Homo sapiens: one gene and its partner. The protein of the gene in region 1 interacts with the protein of each later gene in a biochemical or structural test. Each region holds a gene or a part of one and is shown in the gene's direction. Other genes may lie near its edges. The genes, in order: DMP1 and CCND2.

Region 1 (9,526 bases):
TAAGATATATATACACATATACATGTATATATCTATATATATTCATATATATTCCATGTGTATATATACATGTATGTATCTGTATATATCCATATATATTCCATGTGTATATTATAGGATATATACACACACACAGATATCCTATATATATAGGATATATTTATATACAGATACCCTATTTATATGTATTTATATATCCTATGTGTATTTATTTATATATTCTATTTATATAGGATATATGTGTGTATATACATCTGTGTATATATCCTATATAAATAAGATAAATAAATATATATAATAGGATATGTAAATATATATGTATAAATATGATATATATATCATATTAATTGATAAGGGACTTATTAGAGAAATTGGCTCATGTGATTATGGAGGCTGAGAAGTCCCACAGCATGCAGCCTGCAAGCTGGAGACCCCGTGATGAGGGTAGTGTGGCTCAGTCCAAGTCTGAAAGCCTCAGAACATGGGAAGCTGATGGTGTAACTCTCAGTCTGAGGCCCAAGGTCTGAGAACCTGGGTGTCAGGAGGAGTAGCCTGGTATAAATCCTGGAGCCTAAAGGCCATAGAAGCTGGAGTTGTGATGTCCAAGGGCAGGAGAAGAAGAATGTCTCAGCTCCAGGAGAGAGAGAGGAAATCATTTTTCTGCTTCCTTTTTTGTTCTATCGGGGTCTCCAGCAGACTGGATATTGCCTGTCCATACTAGGGGCAGATGCTTCTCACCAAGTCCACAGACTCACATGACAAGCTCCTCTAGAAACACCCTCACAGACATGCCCAGAAATAATGCTTTACCAGTTCTCTAGGTATTCTTTAATCCAGTCAAGTTGACACCTAAAATTAATCATCACACAATTCTTTTACAAAGATAAGCTTCCCCTCATGTCTAATTTGGTTTAGTTCATAGAGGTCTGCACAAATACCTCATTCTTTCCACTTACTTATAAGTTTTCAAGGTCATGAAGTGGCTTCCTGTTATCATCCCAAGGTGACCAATTAGTATTCTATTTCATTTTTGTAATATCATTATGAACTCAGAGATTTAAAATTATCTATTTTAAAGACTACATTGCTCCATCTTTGGCCAGTAGAGGCCTATTTGAGTTGGCTCCTGAGTCCTTTGACAGAATCTTAGTAATCTTTGATAGCTTTCCTGGAATCTGGGACGACAATATGTTCCAAACTCATCTTGCATATTTTGGGTCATAGACCTGGTATCAACCAATTTCCCAACAGGCCCCAGATGCTAGATCATAATCCGGGTTCTAGGGGTCCTAGCTATGACTGTGTTTTTAGGTCTCTATAGTGACAGAGCTAAGATATACATGTAGGATATGTGTGTGTGTGCGTGAGTGTGTCTTTATAATAATCCCTGAGTAAATTCTAATCTTTTCCATTTAAATTCAGGATTATAGGATTATGGAGTTCATTACTCTTTTTTTTTGAGACAGGGTCTCACTCTGTCACCCAGGCTGGAGTGCAGTGGTGTGATCATGGCTCACTGCAGCCTTGACTTCCTGGGCTCAAGCAATCCTCCTGTCTCAGCCTCCTGAGTAGCTGGGACTACAGGTGGGAGCCACCACGCCCAGCTAATTTTTTTGTACTGTTTGTAGAGATGAGGTTTCACCATGTTGCCCAAGCTGGTTTGGAACTCCTGGCTCAAGGTATCTGCTGGCCTCGGCCTCCCAAAGGGCTTTTGCTCTTTTGTATCAAATTTGTATCTCCTTTCTTTCACACTGAGAATCCTGATTCTCATGGATGCATTGGTTAAAGAAAGAGAATAATTCAAAATTACTAATATACTTTATTCCACATTATACATACAACATTCTCAGAATAACAATAATATTGCCATCACTAGTATAATTATTGAGAGCAGTTGAAATTATTTTTGCACATATGCTCTCCGTTCTCCCCACCTTTTTAAAAGCTGCACTATATCAATGCTAAGTATTTAGTTATTATATACCGTGCTGTCTCCCGTTTAGCCTCACTTAATTACATTTTTACAAGTAACTATATGTTTTATGTTTATCACCTGTTCTTACGACAATGCCTCTCTAGTTATTTTGGTTGACTGAAACTCTTTATCTAGTAGATTCCCCAGCAATGGTTTGAGAAAATAATATTCCTTGAATTCTTGCCTGTTGATAGCAGTTTGCTTTAGCCTCTCATACCTAAAAGTCAGTTTGCTGACTTATAAAATCCTTACTTCACATTTTCTTATCTTGAATGCATTAGGTATATTACCTTATTTTTCCTGGCATGAAGCATTACTGTCAAAGTCTTAATGATAATCTAATATCCCTTCCCTTATGAATCACTTGTTGCTTTTGCCTAGAAGCCCAAAGGACTTTACCTTCAAAGTTCAGTAATTTTATTAGAATATGTTTTGGTGTTGGTCATTTTGGGCCAATATTCTCAGGTACATGATATGCTCTTTAAATGAGAGTTTTTAATCTTCTTTTTTTAAATTCAGGGAAACTTCCTTCGATGATATGTTTGTTATTCGTTTGTTTTTTAGTACTTCTGCTGTTCTCTCACTTTTGTTATCTTCTTTAGGCCTCCTATAATCTACAATTTGGATGTTCTTTGCCAATCTTTAATATAATTCACTTTTTCCCAAATACTTTTTATTTATTTATTTTTTTAACTTTAAAATATTTCCCTCTTTTTTGCCTTCTACTTCCATTGAATAATTACCTATTATATTTATTCTCTTTTGTGTTCCCTCTAGATTAGTTTTCATTTCTAAAATAATTTTTTCTTTCATGCTAATATTTTCCTGAGTCCTGATATTTATTTTCTGAATTATTCTAGTTTCCATGTATTTTTTTCACCTATTGTGTCATTTTCTTGATACTTCTTTACTATTTTAAAAATAGAAGCTTAGGGTTTTAATTTATTATTTAATTATGTCTTTTAAGCATACTTTGTCTATCAGGTTGTTATTCTGCTCCTATGGGATTTAACCTTCATAGTTTTTTGCTGTTTGTTTTATATGAAAGTGGTTTTCCTGTACTTTTAGAAAGAAATGTGGTTCAGGGTAACTTTCAAACTTCACACGGCTCCCTCTTCTGTTGCTTTCGTGTTATGTTAAAAAAAAATAGCAGCTTTCTAAGATTTCTTGGATCCATTCCCCTCTCCCATATTTATCTGTGTCTTCTCTATTGTCTATATCCTGTGCAATTTTTATTCCACTCCCAGAAGTTTCTCCTGTATGTGAGTCTGTCTTAGAAAGCAGCTGTAGTGGCTTAGAATCCTTAGGGGCTAGACTGGTCTAGATCCTTCAGCTGTGCTATGAACCATTGGCACCCATCAGCAATAATTCTTGACTGCTTTGGGTTCTGCTGTTCTCATGTTCATCAGATTTCCTGCTGCTTTCCTCCGCTCACTCCTGCATAGACTCTCTAGGTCTTGTGGCAGTTGTGGACTTTGTCCTTAGTCACCTTGGAGTTAGTGGATATAACTTGTCATAAGGGGTGGTAACTAATCAAAAACTACCTCAACGTTTCCTCTGCTCCCTATACATGTGCATCCTGATCTGACACCAAAAGGTAGAGAGTATTTCTCCTTATGAATCTGAGATCTCCTTGTGATTGATTGACCAACAGAATATGGAAAAATGATATTCTAGGAACTCTTGGCCCCCAGCCTTCAGGTTGTGAGAAGGCCAAGCCAAGGAGAGGCCATGTAAAGAACTAAAGTGCTCAGAATTACAGCTCCAGCTGAGCTCTCAGGTAACAACTATGAAAGTGGCATCTGAAATGTTCTGCCCCAACTGAGTCTTCAGATGACTACAATGCTAGCTGTGAGAGATAAGAAAATGGTAGTTGTTTTAAAATGCAAAGTATTGAAGTGGTTTTTGATATAGCAATAGATAACAAAAATGCCTAGTTTTATTGTAAATGTTATCCACAGTTTTCAATTTTGTTATCTAATTGCTCCTCTGTTTTTATGTAGGGATTTGAAGAGAGTCTAAAATAATGTCTTGTAATGCAATCTGCCCAAATCTGCCCAGAATCCAATTCTGTCATAAGATTATAAGGTTCTTCTAGCATAGATCTCAGTTAAGACCCATGAAACCATCAGAGAGTGTAATTCAGAACCAGAGCAAATCACAGGGAATTTATAGCTTCCCCATATGGACTTTGGCTTTCTAATCAACCCTAAATGAAAATAGACATCTCTTTCCTCATTGTCTGCACCACCCTCCCCCGCATATTATAGTTCACACTAAATATGTTGATAATCCATATATCTGACATTAGTTGCCTGAATAAATTGGGCACTCTAATTTTCTAGATCCATGTTAGGAGCATCAGCTCAATTTTTTTTTTAACAATTAAAGCATTTTTTTAAAAGTTACAGTGAGTTATGCAGATACTGTAATCAAGTTAATAGTTTGGCTAATTTTCAAGCCAATCCACTCAGTCATTCAAAGAGTACTGAGTGATTATTAAGAACTGTTCTAGGTATCCAGGCACTGATTATAGATCAGTAGACAAGCAAACATCCCTACTCTTAAGGAAATTAAGGTCCAGCAGCTGATATTCTCTAAATTCTTGTTCAGTGGCCATCCTGCCGTCACTTGAACACGCTCCTGGGAAATTGCCAAACCCATTTCCAGCTCCCTACAACTTTTAGTACGCTTCCTCGAAAATGTTTTGGTAAATATCATTTTATCCATTTCATTACATTTTCAGTGGTGGCACAGAGTCCCTTCAAGATTAGTTTCCTTGGATGCTACCCAGCTAGTATTCCCCTTAATCCAATTCTGATTTCAAAGAATCATTAAAATGTGGCAAACAGGGAATGATTAAGTGTTAAGTGTTAGATCTAAATTTCTTGAATAACACAATAGCTACTTAAGGGGGGTACTTTAGTGGACGCTTTATTAGATTAGTAGGAGTTTGGGAACTTTGTGTGTATATGGGGGTGGGGAGATGAGAGGAAAAGGAGGTGAGTAGTAGAGGTTGTTAAAAGAGGAAAAAGGAAGAAATAAAAGCCCATATTCTCAAAACCAACAATTTAAGGAACTCTAGTATTTTAGTAGCTTTCTCCATGTACAACCTGGAAATGTACATTAACAGGAAACTTTCTACCCACCCCTGCCTCCGCCTTTCCCATCCTTGGGTCTGCTGGGATCTGTCGGTGGGTAGAAGACATTGTCATTGTTCATAAGACTGCCTGAATGTGAATGACATATATTTAGAAATCAAAATAAAGTTTTGGGAAGATCTTCAATTTAATGGAAACTAGTCTAGTCATTTGGGAACCACAAGAGCTTTTTAGGGAAAATGTGCCTCTGCCAGCTGGAGGAAGTGTGGGTGTACCGGGGTCCCGGTGACACCTTGTGATGTCAGTCACCCCCAGCCTGAGGTTGATTGGCTATGAAGAGCTGCAGCAGAGTTTAAATTCCTGCACCATCAGAGAAGTGTCCAGAATATCAACACAAGAGTGGCTTCATTGGGCATAGATTTCCTCTTTGAGAACATCAACCTGATTTTTGAGACTTTTTGAAAAAATTCTTTGTGAACTACGGAGGGTAAGTCATTTTCATCATTTAATTTTTTAAAATGACTTTTGCTGGTTGTTTGGAAAATATTAAATATGTATACATGTTTGAGGCATTATACCATGTAGAGAGAGATGGGAGAGCTGCGCTTTGGGTAAAAACAGTTCCTATTTTTGTGCCTGTTGTTTATGCCACAGTAAATAATGATATGAAAATGACATGTTAAGACAATACAGCCAGGTGTTTTTCTTGGTAATGCTTTAATTAGATCTCTGCATGACACTTCTAAAAGGGATAGTTTATAGAACAGGAGGCAGATGGAAGGTCATTTTGAAATTTAGTTTTAATTAGCAAAACGTATAAAACTTTTACAGTGTGTTTCATGAATAAGGGAATGTTTGCAACCTACAAGATTGTGAAAAAAAAGCTAAACTTATTGAATGGCAGGACTTTAAAAAGAATTTTTTTTAAATTAAAATGTTATTCATCTAGAGAGCATCTAGTAACATTTATTATGAACTGCATAAGTAACTAAAAGATGATTAAACTACTGAAATAACTGAGGGTGTGATAATTATGTTTTTTGTATTCATGTTAGCATGATGCCTTGAATACAGTTAGAATTCAATAAATGTTGAATATAATTATATTTTAAAATATTGCATTTTAAAACATATATTTTAAAATGTCCATATGTATTTTTATTTACTGTATTTAGTGCACTTCTTCATCTGTGTGACGTTTAGAAGAGTCCATGTGTTTTAGCAACTTGTCTTCCTTAAGAGCAGTAACTTGTGGTTAACCATACTTTCTGTTTAACTGAGGCTTGACTATCTTATTTTAACTTTGTTGTTTAAAAATGCGAACAAACTATTTTCTAAAGGGTATTAGTCCACTTACCTACCTGAAAATGGTGATGTAAAACAATGTGCCTCAGATGCTTAGAGGCCTTCCAAATCTATATTTAATTTTGGGGGCACCTCAGAGGTATATTCCTGTGATTAAAAGCATATAATATTGGATTCATCGTAATTGACCTGAAGACACATACAATAGGAAGAATTGGATTTTTTTTTGGTTTGTTTGTTTCTCTGGATTCCTGGTAGAGTTCATATCCTGGCCAAGTTTGATTCTATTTTCAAAGAGTAATAAGAAAACAAATTCTAGCAGGTTCTAGTTAGTTGGATTCTGGTTAATTTTATTATTATAAAACCAACTTATTTTATTATTATTGTTTATTATTATTAAAGTTTCCTGCTAATGTACATTTACAGGTTGTACATGGAGAAAGCTACCAAAATATTAGAGTTTCTTAAATTGTTGGTTTTGAGAATATGGGCTAGAAAAGTGCCTAACACATTGCATGTTCATAAATATTTACTGACTGCTAATGAATGAATGTATTGTTCAGTTGTGTTCTTGAAGATAACAATACTAAGACAAATAAAGCAAATTAATATGATGAATTGTTTTCCAAAAGAAAAAAGAGTCTATGACTTTTCAAACCTTTATTTTCTTCTTTTGGCCTATTTCCTTCATTTTGGTTTACATAAAAGAAGATATATATTTTACAAATGTATCTTAACCTTGAGAAAATGCTAGAACAAATTTCCTTACTTAAGAGCCGAAAGAAGTTTTGGCTACACACCTGAAATCTTGACTTTAGTTTCCCTCTCCACATTCTAAACATTTGGCTCTTTTCAACTCTATGAAAACAATTCACAGGGGCAGAAATTCTCTAATACACCGCCTTCCAAATGGATGGAACTCAAGTTGTTTATTTCCTTTTGTTACGTCATCTCACTGTAGAATGACAGCATGTAGAATGTAGAAATAACATTAACCAATCACTGAAGAAGAACTCAAAGTTCTGGACTTTTAATTGCAGGCTTGTAGCTGTGGTTCACATTTATTATTCAGAATATGGCTACTGCCTATCTGCTTCTACTCTTTTTTGAATAGTAGCCAAAATGTTTATAAAAGTTTGGAGCTCTTGTTTGGAAATGCACTTCACAAAATTATAATTATTTTTATCAGAAATACCAAATGCAAACCTAACAAGGGGTTTAAGATCTGATTTTCTTTAATGCTTACAGTTGGACTATATTTTTTGGGTGGCAACATCAGCTCTCTCAGAACTCTAGAGTGTCTTTTATTTTAGTTTACTAGACTTGCATCTGGGAAATTATTGCTTTAGGTCAGGATGCTAACGAGTATTTCTAGAATCCTGAGCAAGTTAGGGCATCTTTCTTGTGTTTTAGAATCTTCCATCCCTAAGAAACTTGAGCACTTGGGGCATGCACTTCTTTGTGAGAAAACACAACGTTCATTGGTTTAGAATAAATGCACAATGGCATCCCCAGTTTTCTAATTATTTAGATTAGAGAAGCTAAAGAAAATACAAGAGAATTCAATAGTCATTGACCTTCTGTCAAGGCTCTAACATTTGCTAGCTTTCAGAGAATCATGAAATTATAACCCTATTCAAATTTCACTTTGAAAATTAAAATGATGAGGTAACTTTCATTTGATCTGTGAAACTGAAAGCATTGAAAGGGTTATTTTGAGAATATCATATTTGAGAAAATTTTGCTTTCCTGAAGAAATAAACCTAACACATTTTTTAAAAAGTTTTGATTGTGGTATCTAAAGAGAAGTAACATCTATTAAATTAAGCTTGATTTTGGTATAGTTAAGCATTTTCATATGTTTTTCTCTGTTGATATTAATTGAAGGATTTTTAAAAGAAATTAAGATAGTATCAAACATAAGGACTGATATACACTATGCGAATTAGAATAAAGAAAGTAGCACAAATTAAGAATAACTATGCTGAGGAGAGATAATGCCCATAATATACATGAGAGGTTGTTTGACCATTTGAGTTGTGTGAAAGCAGAAATGAGAAGCCTGTTCAGGCTCCTTATCTTAGGATTTCTATTATTTTATTGAATACATTAAAAATAAGATTAGATGACTTCTTGAGCCCAATGTTTCAGACAATATTCAGCATATTCAGGCATTATCGAGTGATATATATATATATATATATATATATATATATATATATATATATATACTTTTTTTTTGAGATAGGGTCTTGCTCTGTCACCCAAACAGGTGTGGAGTGGCACGATCATGGCTCAGTGCAGCTTCAACCTCCCTGGCTCAAAGAATTCTCCCCACTCAGCCTCCTGAGTAGCTGGGACTACAGGCACGTGCCACCAAGCCTGGTTAATTATGATATTTTTAATTCTTAGATCAAGTGTTAAAATCTCTTGTGGAACTTTAAAAACAAACCTATTCCTGTGCCCACCCAAGTGAATGGATTTATTGCCCTGGGATGGGATTTGTGCATTGGCATTTTTAAAACTCTTCCCAGTTGATAGTAATATATATTTAGGGTTGAGAATCTTTGGCTTTTAACTCCTATCATTATTTTAGGGGCCAAGGGAAAACTTCCCCCTCACCCTCTGAAGGTTTGCTGAAAATCAACTGACAAAATATAGATTAATAGGAGAAAAGGAATACAAAATTATTTTTATGTGACACAGGAGCCTTCAGAACGAAGACCTAAAGATACAGGAGAAACTGTCCATCTTTATGCTTATGTCCAACAAAACATGGGCAGCCATGTAGAAATATGATTGGACAAAAAGGTTTTGACCTTATACTAGTAGACCAAGTGGGGTGGCCCAGCAAAGCCTGTCCAGATTCTTCTTGGCCTCTCCGTGCAGCATTTCTTCCTTCTTGATATGGGACAGGACCTTCTCTGCAATGCGGGTCTTATGACATACAATTAAACTAGGGGGGTCAGAGAATTTCTTTAAGGCCAGTTGTTACACAGAAAGACAGGGGGACTTAGGGTAATATTTTCAGGTTTTATTGCTGGCTTTGGGGAAAAGAGGTTCTGGTTTCTATAACCTGCCTTTGGGAAAGAGGGATTCTAGTTTCTATGGTTAGTCTCAGGGGAGAATGAGGGGCCAGAGATAG
Region 2 (9,028 bases), on another chromosome or scaffold:
TTCTGCATCTGATTCCTACAACAGCCCCTTTACCTCAAAGAGGTAAAAGTCAGTTCACAGTATTTCTCTCCCAAACATCCCCACTGAAGCTCCTTGTAAATTTCAGCATAAACTCAGAACTGTCACCGTGGGTTTAGAAAATAATGACACATTTCAGCTATAACCCCCCAGATTGAAAGATTAAAAGGACTTTGCCCAAATTTAGGGGAAATGAAGGTGCGTGGGCTCACTCTGCAGCTGCAGTTTTCAGCCCTTGCAGTTTAGAAGATTCTGCATGAGCACGGATGCCACGAGGGTATCCAGCGAGTGGGAAGGGAGTCGCCCTACATGTTTTCACATCGATTTGTAAAACTGTTTTGAAAGGGTATTTCTAGATCCATTTGTTCCAAATGCAGCAAAATTCATCCGATATCGCTCACAATGCATGCACGGGTTATCTTACATGTAATAGCCATCGTATTAACCAACCCAGCTGATACTGAGATGGTGAATGGGGCGGGGGAGCAGGGAGGAATATGTCGCGCATGAAAAACTCCGGGTGTAAAAGTCAATGCAGAACTCACTCCCCGAGGAACCGAAAAAGACATTCACGACTCTCAAGTGGAGAGAGGATAGAAAGTCAAGTGGCGGGGGTCGCGACCAGTGATCGGGATTTCAGTCTGATCTCAGTACCCAGCGGAACAGGACCATAACCTAAAGAAATGAGCTTTTTCCGGAGCAAAGAGCGGCCCCGATTTCAAAGTAGAAAAAATAAACTGCTTGGGGGTGGAAGATGGCGAGGGGCGGGGGGCGGGGAGGGAGGCGGGTCGCGGCGCTGGCTCCGGGGTCCGCGGCACGGCCTCCTCTGCCGCGCTGCCCAGGGCCCGGACCCTGCCCGGCGCTGCGCCCACCGCGAGGGTGCCAGACCCGCCGCGCCGCCGCCGCGCTCTCCCAGCCGCGGCCCCCTCCCCCGCCGCTTCCTCTTGCTCTCCCAGCCCCTTCCCCCACGTGTGGATGACGTCAAAATTCCGCGAAAAAGCCGCGTGGTGGCTCCCCGAGCGGAGGCGCGATTCCGCCGCCCAGCGGCCCCCTCCCGGGGGCGCCTGGAGGGGGAGAAGGGCGGAGGCGGCCGGTTCCTTCTCCTCCCGGGAGGCAGGACCCCCCGACGCCGACCGCCGGACGCCCCCCGCCCCAAAGCTTATTGGAAAATTCACTTTTGTAAAGCAAATGTATTTCCAGAGCTATTTTCGGCCGCGTGAGGCGTGTCCTAAGCTGAATCAGACAGGAAGAGGGGGAAGTTCGGGTCTTTTAATTTTTTTTTTTTCCGAAGGGAGGGGAGTGAGATGCTAGGTGGGTGACAGACGGCAGGCGCTCGCCTTCTTAACTCACGCCTGTCGCATCTGCCGCCTCAGTAATCCAGCCCCGTCCAAGCCGAAATTCGCCGAAGGGAGTGCGGATGCACAGGCCTGGCGGACTCTGCCCCCCTCCAGAACGCAGCGGCCCAGCGCCCCGGCGGGCGCGGCTGCGACCAGAGGGTCCCGGAAGCGAGTGAACACCTGCAATCGCACTGCCCGTCCCCACCCACCCTGCTCCCCCGTGCTCTCCGCTTCCCGACGTTTTCCTCTTCTCCTTGTCCGCATTTTTCTACTTTGCCTGCACTCCCTCCTTCCTCTTGATGTGCCTCCTATGTGTCCCCTCGGATTTATGTGTCCCCTCGCATTTTGCCAGTCGGGTTTTCGGTTTTGATTGACCGTCCATCCCTCCACGGAGAAACACAAACACAGCTCCACTCTTTGGGGGAGCCGAGGGGAAGGCAGTGGCTCCCATTTCTGAGCCTGAACTCAGTCACTACCCGCTCCCCACCTGGCCTAGGCGCCCCTGCGCGGAGAAGGCGGGACTCGAACTCGCGCTGCTCCCGGGCCTTGAGCCGACCGCGGAATCACCTGGCTGGGAGGCATCCTCCAGGTAAGCTTGGGAGTATGTGTGCTTAGTGCTGCAGGCTCCTGCAGAAAAGTGCCTATAAACACCCAACACCCTGCTGCACCCTCCACCTCCAGGCTTTGTACACTTTCCAACCGAAACTCCAAAACGCTAGCGTAGAGGGTGGGGAGCCGGCCGGAAAAAGAATAAAAGTCCAATAAAACTGGCGTTCGCTAAAGTTTATCACCAGTCCTACATGGGATATATATATATGTATTTTTTTTTCCGTGAAGGGTGAAAAGGAGATAAGGAAGAACCAACAATCTACCCCCTCCCGCCGCCCCCCACCCCCGCGCCACGGTGATCAGTTTGGACTTCAAAGCCAGAGCACAGGCTCTTGCGCTTTTTCTTGAAACCGAAGTCTACACTGAAAGAAAGTGTGCACTTTTGCCTAGAAGGCAACATGCGTTTTCCCGCGTGCTAGGTGGAGTGCATTTTAACAAGACATTAGGGTTTTAACACATGGCTGGAGTGGCGACCAAAAGGGAAAACTCAGTTTCCAGTCCAAGCCTCCTAGAGACATTCCTGCCAACCTCCGCACCCTCTCACGCCCCACCCCACGTGTGAGAGTCTGCAAAACCACCGGGGATTGGATTCGATGGCGAGCTTCACGCTCGGGAACAGTCAGTAATCGGAAGGGGAAGTGGACAGGGGAACTTCAAGAGGCGAGCCTGCCACGCGGGAAGCGCCCGAACTTGCGGGTCTCCATGAATGCAGAGGGCGCCGGGAAGGGGGGGCATCCGGCCGCGACCCTCTCTGCCCCTCCCATTCGCTGCCCCCCTCCCCGCTGGAATTTCTCTGTAAAGCAAGACGGAGTAGGGGGAGGGGGAGAGGGAAGGGGCGAGAGGGCCCTCGGCTCACTCCCGAGACGTGAGGACTCGCCACCCAGGCATTCTCCTCGGGGTGGGCTGGGCCCCGGGACGACCACCCGCTTCTTCCTCGCCCCCGCTGCCCCCACTTCGGGAGACCCAGAGCTCTGGATGCCTTTCCCCGGAGAAGGGGGGGTGTGCGGAGTCGGGGTGGAAGAGACCTTGCTCGCAGAGCTATATCAAGTGATGTCCAGAGGCTGGGAGCCCCGGCGGCCTCTGTCCCTTGCCTGTCGGGTTAGATTTATACTTTAAAAATACCTCCCGCCCTCCCTCCTTCTCTCGCCTCTCCCCGCTGCAACTTTCTTTGATCCGCTCAAAGGTGGCTTAGGTGAAATTGGAGTAATTCCCTTATGGGGGTCTTAAAATGTAAGTGAATGTCCTTATCCGGGGTGACTCAAAAGCTTAAGTCGGGAAGCCCAACGTGACTAAAACCAATAGGTGATTGTTCGGGGCCGACTGTGTGCGGGTGTACACGGTATTCGGCCCGGGTGTCATCCGCGGCGCTGGACTGTTTCATTTTGAGTTTGCAACTTGGGTTTTTCAGCGAGCTTTTTTTCTTCCTGAAAGCTAATGGCTTCCACAGCAATTAGACATTTTCCTCGCCCGCCCCTTCCCTCCCCTTTCTTTACATATAGGAGATGGGATACTCATTCCCGCTGCTATTGATAAGGTCGGAGGCGGCCGGGCCTCTCCCCAGCTTTCGCCCGCCCCAGCGCCCGCTCTCCCTCCGCCCTCCCTTGGCTTCCTTTTGATGTAGTGGGGAACGCGTCCTACTAAAAAAAAAAAAAAAAAAAAAAAAAAAAAGTAATCTGCCCGGTAACAATCAGCGCGCAGTAGCAGGAGCCCCAGAGCTATTGGCTATGCAAATAGAGGGAGGGGAGACGGCGCCCCAAACTCTTCCTCACCCTTTTAAAGCGATATCCCCTCCTTTCCCCCCCACCACCCCTTCCGCCCCACCCTCGTTTAAAGAGGCTGGCTCCGGGGCCTGAGTTAATCGCTTGCACCTCTAGTTTATTCGCTCCCCTCCTCCGCCTTGCAGGGAACCTAGTGTACGGCTCACCCAGCCCGCGCCCCACCCCGCCTTGCTGGCTCTCCGCGCCCCTGCCCGGGCCCCCTCTCTCGGTGAGGGAGGCACTCAGTCGGCCTCGGTGTGCCCAGAGAGCTCGAGCCACGCCATGCCCGCTGCACGTGCCAGCTTGGCCAGCACATCAGGGCGCTGGTCTCTCCCCTTCCTCCTGGAGTGAAATACACCAAAGGGCGCGGTGGGGGTGGGGGGTGACGGGAGGAAGGAGGTGAAGAAACGCCACCAGATCGTATCTCCTGTAAAGACAGCCTTGACTCAAGCATGCGTTAGAGCACGTGTCAGGGCCGACCGTGCTGGCGGCGACTTCACCGCAGTCGGCTCCCAGGGAGAAAGCCTGGCGAGTGAGGCGCGAAACCGGAGGGGTCGGCGAGGATGCGGGCGAAGGACCGAGCGTGGAGGCCTCATGCCTCCGGGGAAAGGAAGGGGTGGTGGTGTTTGCGCAGGGGGAGCGAGGGGGAGCCGGACCTAATCCCTCACTCGCCCCCTCCCCCTCCCGGGCCATTTCCTAGAAAGCTGCATCGGTGTGGCCACGCTCAGCGCAGACACCTCGGGCGGCTTGTCAGCAGATGCAGGGGCGAGGAAGCGGGTTTTTCCTGCGTGGCCGCTGGCCGCGGGGGAACCGCTGGGAGCCCTGCCCCCGGCCTGCGGCGGCCCTAGACGCTGCACCGCGTCGCCCCACGGCGCCCGAAGAGCCCCCAGAAACACGATGGTTTCTGCTCGAGGATCACATTCTATCCCTCCAGAGAAGCACCCCCCTTCCTTCCTAATACCCACCTCTCCCTCCCTCTTCTTCCTCTGCACACACTCTGCAGGGGGGGGCAGAAGGGACGTTGTTCTGGTCCCTTTAATCGGGGCTTTCGAAACAGCTTCGAAGTTATCAGGAACACAGACTTCAGGGACATGACCTTTATCTCTGGGTATGCGAGGTTGCTATTTTCTAAAATCACCCCCTCCCTTATTTTTCACTTAAGGGACCTATTTCTAAATTGTCTGAGGTCACCCCATCTTCAGATAATCTACCCTACATTCCTGGATCTTAAATACAAGGGCAGGAGGATTAGGATCCGTTTTGAAGAAGCCAAAGTTGGAGGGTCGTATTTTGGCGTGCTACACCTACAGAATGAGTGAAATTAGAGGGCAGAAATAGGAGTCGGTAGTTTTTTGTGGGTTGCCCTGTCCGGGGCCCCTGGCATGCAGGGCTGGATGGAGGGAGAGGGGTGGGGGGTGGCGGGGGACCGCGTTTGAAGTTGGGTCGGGCCAGCTGCTGTTCTCCTTAATAACGAGAGGGGAAAAGGAGGGAGGGAGGGAGAGATTGAAAGGAGGAGGGGAGGACCGGGAGGGGAGGAAAGGGGAGGAGGAACCAGAGCGGGGAGCGCGGGGAGAGGGAGGAGAGCTAACTGCCCAGCCAGCTTGCGTCACCGCTTCAGAGCGGAGAAGAGCGAGCAGGGGAGAGCGAGACCAGTTTTAAGGGGAGGACCGGTGCGAGTGAGGCAGCCCCGAGGCTCTGCTCGCCCACCACCCAATCCTCGCCTCCCTTCTGCTCCACCTTCTCTCTCTGCCCTCACCTCTCCCCCGAAAACCCCCTATTTAGCCAAAGGAAGGAGGTCAGGGGAACGCTCTCCCCTCCCCTTCCAAAAAACAAAAACAGAAAAACCTTTTTCCAGGCCGGGGAAAGCAGGAGGGAGAGGGGCCGCCGGGCTGGCCATGGAGCTGCTGTGCCACGAGGTGGACCCGGTCCGCAGGGCCGTGCGGGACCGCAACCTGCTCCGAGACGACCGCGTCCTGCAGAACCTGCTCACCATCGAGGAGCGCTACCTTCCGCAGTGCTCCTACTTCAAGTGCGTGCAGAAGGACATCCAACCCTACATGCGCAGAATGGTGGCCACCTGGATGCTGGAGGTAGGTCGGGGGGTGGCGCTCGCCAGGAGCCAGGACCCCTCCGGATGCTCGGGTCCCCGGCCGGAGCCCTAAACCTGGGAGAGGGCAATCCCCGCGCCGGCCTCCCGGCTCCTGTGCGGGAGTTTACCGCGCGCCTTCTGGCGAGACGCGTGGCTTTATTTCTGTTCCTCTCCAGATAAACTGGGGAGGCAGAGGGGGGAGGAAAATCTGGGAGAAGCGAGGCTGTCCTGGGCGGGGGTAGGGGAGCATCCCGCGCGCGTGTTCCTGCATGTGGCTGCCTCTTCTTCCCACCCCCCTCGCGACCTGTCTTTTGCGAAGCCGCCGCGGCTGCTTGCGCTGCGGCCAGGAAGAGAGTCGGGGCCTGAAATCGGGACCCCGAGTAGAAAGGCAACCCCCCCCAAAAGGCCAGAGCAAATTCGTCTTGGCCTCAGGTCCCCGCCTGTGGTCGCGACTCCGCGCTGGCACTTCACCGGGGAGGTGGAGGGAGGAGGGAGAAGGAGAGAAACGGGGAATTCGGGAGCCCCGGAAGTCCCATTGAAGAAACGCGTGTTTCAGGGGAACCCAAAAGAACCGCTTCTTGCCCCTCACTCCAAGTCTTTGCCCAGCGAGCCGTGTGCCCACGTATGCACAGCTCTGGACCTGCCGTGGTTTCGCCATGTTGCTTTGCAAACTCCCTTTGGAAAGGCTGGGAAACGTCGCCCGCTTACCCTCGCACCCCATTATCCCGGCCACCCCACTTCTAATCGTGCCCTCTCCCCCACCCCCCACCTCACGAAGATTACTTACAGTTTGGTTTTCCAGCTTCCTCGGTGCGGAGATTTGGGTGGGGTAGGAAGGGGGGGAGGGGGTGTGTGTAGGGGGGATACCGGGTCACCCCTGAAGGAGAGGTGGGAGCCCCCCGTGCCTCTTTCCAGGGCTCTCTGCTCCCGTCTTTCCCCTCGCTCGTCACCGCGTTCCCTAGTTTCTGTCCTTGTGGGCCGCAGCCGGACACTCCCGCCGCGGCGCTCACCCCTTCAAGTTTCCTCCCGGGATCCAAAGCCCCAGGGGTCGGAATACAGACCTTTCTGGCACCCGAAACCTCTGTTTCGGGAAGCCTGGCTCTTCTTTGGGGTTTTCACGCCAAAAGGGCTTTTCTAGGATATTTCCTCGATTTTTAATTATTTTTTGAAACCATCCCCCCCTGCTCCGACTCCAGCTGCCGAGGCTGCGGCGCTCTTCCTCCTCTCCTCCCTCCCCCTCTCTTCCCCACCTCTCCTCACCCGCCCCCCCAAAAGCGGCCCCTGGGCCGCAGGGACCCCCCCAGACATTTTTTCCAATTGTCGGGAATGATAGAGGAGGATCTGGGGATCCGGATGAGACCAAGAAGTGGACCCCCGGAGCCTCCAGAATATTTTTATTGATTTTTTGAAAAGATGACGAAATCCAAAAAAGAGTGAGTGAGTTAGAGTGCGCGAAGGAGTAGCCAAAGGGAGCGTCGCGGAGCTGCCGCGGCTGCTGCGCACTTCTCCGACTCCCCGTTTTGGAGCTGTAGTTCACCCCCTTTTATAGGATCCCTGGGAATACCAAAGCACTGATGGGCTATTCTGATTCACTCCAGTTTCCTCATCTTTGTTCTTTATTCTTATCACGCATTCTGGTCCCCTCCCCCTCCCACAAAAAAAAATTAATTTTTTTTGTTTCGATAGATTACGCTTTTTTATTCTTTTTCTCTTTTGCTGATGCTATGCTCTCCACCCCCGCCCCCCAACCCTTTCCCACTCCCATTATAGGTCTGTGAGGAACAGAAGTGCGAAGAAGAGGTCTTCCCTCTGGCCATGAATTACCTGGACCGTTTCTTGGCTGGGGTCCCGACTCCGAAGTCCCATCTGCAACTCCTGGGTGCTGTCTGCATGTTCCTGGCCTCCAAACTCAAAGAGACCAGCCCGCTGACCGCGGAGAAGCTGTGCATTTACACCGACAACTCCATCAAGCCTCAGGAGCTGCTGGTAATGACCGGCCCCTTCCTCCCTTCCTTTCTGCGATTCCCGCTTTCCCCTGGCCAACAATATGCCTTCTATCACCACTGCCAGAGCAAATTCTTGGGATCCAGAATGACCCCACCAATAGAATTTACCCACTTATGGGCGATAGCTCATTTAATAGGAAACCACTGTTTATTTTTTGTGTGTTCCTACTATGTGCCCAGGCTCCGTGCCCAGCACTGAGGCTACATCTGTGAATAAGATCCTCATGGAGATTTGGGTTGGTGAGACTCATTTGCAATTGTGTATGCATGTGTGTAGGGGACGCATGGAATATTTTAATTAACAGTGATAATATTTTAATTAAATTCCAAATTTCCAAAAATAGTCTGAGAACGTGTTCACATGATAGGTATGTGGCTGTGGTGTCTCCTAAAAACTTGGAGTTCAAAGGTAATGCCCTCTATATCTACAAAGTCTCAAGATACCAACACATAATAGCTGTTCACTAAATATCAGTTCATTGACTTTTGAGCAAAGTCAAAATGTGGCCTTTCACTGAAGGAGTCCGAGGCCTGGGTTCCTACCTCCAGTGGGACTGTGACCTCTGTACAACCCCAGGGATCCTGTCTTATCTCTGCTTTTCTACCAGGGAACCTTTTTCCCACCTGATCTAACTCCTTTTCCCTGCAGCTTGACATATAAGACGACCATATTGCAGCTGTACCGCATGGAATAGCGGCTCCAAGGCCCACCTTCGGTGGTTTGCACACCCCTCTTTGCACTGTTCAGAAAAGCACCCCCTCCTTCCCGCCCCTCCCCCTCCTCACTGGTAGGGCCCGCACAAAGTCCACAGGGCTGAGGCTGGCTTCTTGAACTGAGCTCTTTGTGAGGAGCCTTCCTTTCTGGGGCTCTGCTGCCATCTAGTGGAAGACATGCACAAGGTTGGGGGAGGAATTGCCGAGAATGTGGAGAGGGGCCTGAATGACTTCACCTTTGAACCGCTGCCAGGTTTTAGCTGCTTCTGGTTTGGTCCGAGAGGCCTAGAAAGGTGCTTTCTTCTGGGAGATCTGCTTCCTTTAATAACGGTGCAAGACCAGTGGTTCGTACTCGCATTACCCTGTGAAGAGGAAGGGCTGGCATTTCAAGCCATCTTTGAAGATGATGGTGGTTTAGTAGTTTATTGGGGTGCTTTACCCCGGCTGTACACAGAAAGCCAAGGCAGATTTTAAAGCTTATGAAGAAAACATTGTTAG

The links.
Region 2: the proteins of DMP1 (region 1) and CCND2 form a complex in vitro, tested with the Homo sapiens proteins (one study listed by BioGRID).

What each region holds. Positions count from the first base shown.
Region 1 is NC_000004.12:87,644,822-87,654,347, forward strand, and holds the start of DMP1 (dentin matrix acidic phosphoprotein 1 isoform 1 precursor), read left to right. Parts: upstream 1-5,458; 5' UTR 5,459-5,563; intron 5,564-9,526. UniProt on the Homo sapiens protein: May have a dual function during osteoblast differentiation. In the nucleus of undifferentiated osteoblasts, unphosphorylated form acts as a transcriptional component for activation of osteoblast-specific genes like osteocalcin.
Region 2 is NC_000012.12:4,268,425-4,277,452, forward strand, and holds the start of CCND2 (G1/S-specific cyclin-D2), read left to right. Parts: upstream 1-5,337; 5' UTR 5,338-5,616; coding exon 5,617-5,811; intron 5,812-6,871; exon of another isoform or gene 6,872-7,053; intron 7,054-7,580; coding exon 7,581-7,796; intron 7,797-9,028. UniProt on the Homo sapiens protein: Regulatory component of the cyclin D2-CDK4 (DC) complex that phosphorylates and inhibits members of the retinoblastoma (RB) protein family including RB1 and regulates the cell-cycle during G(1)/S transition.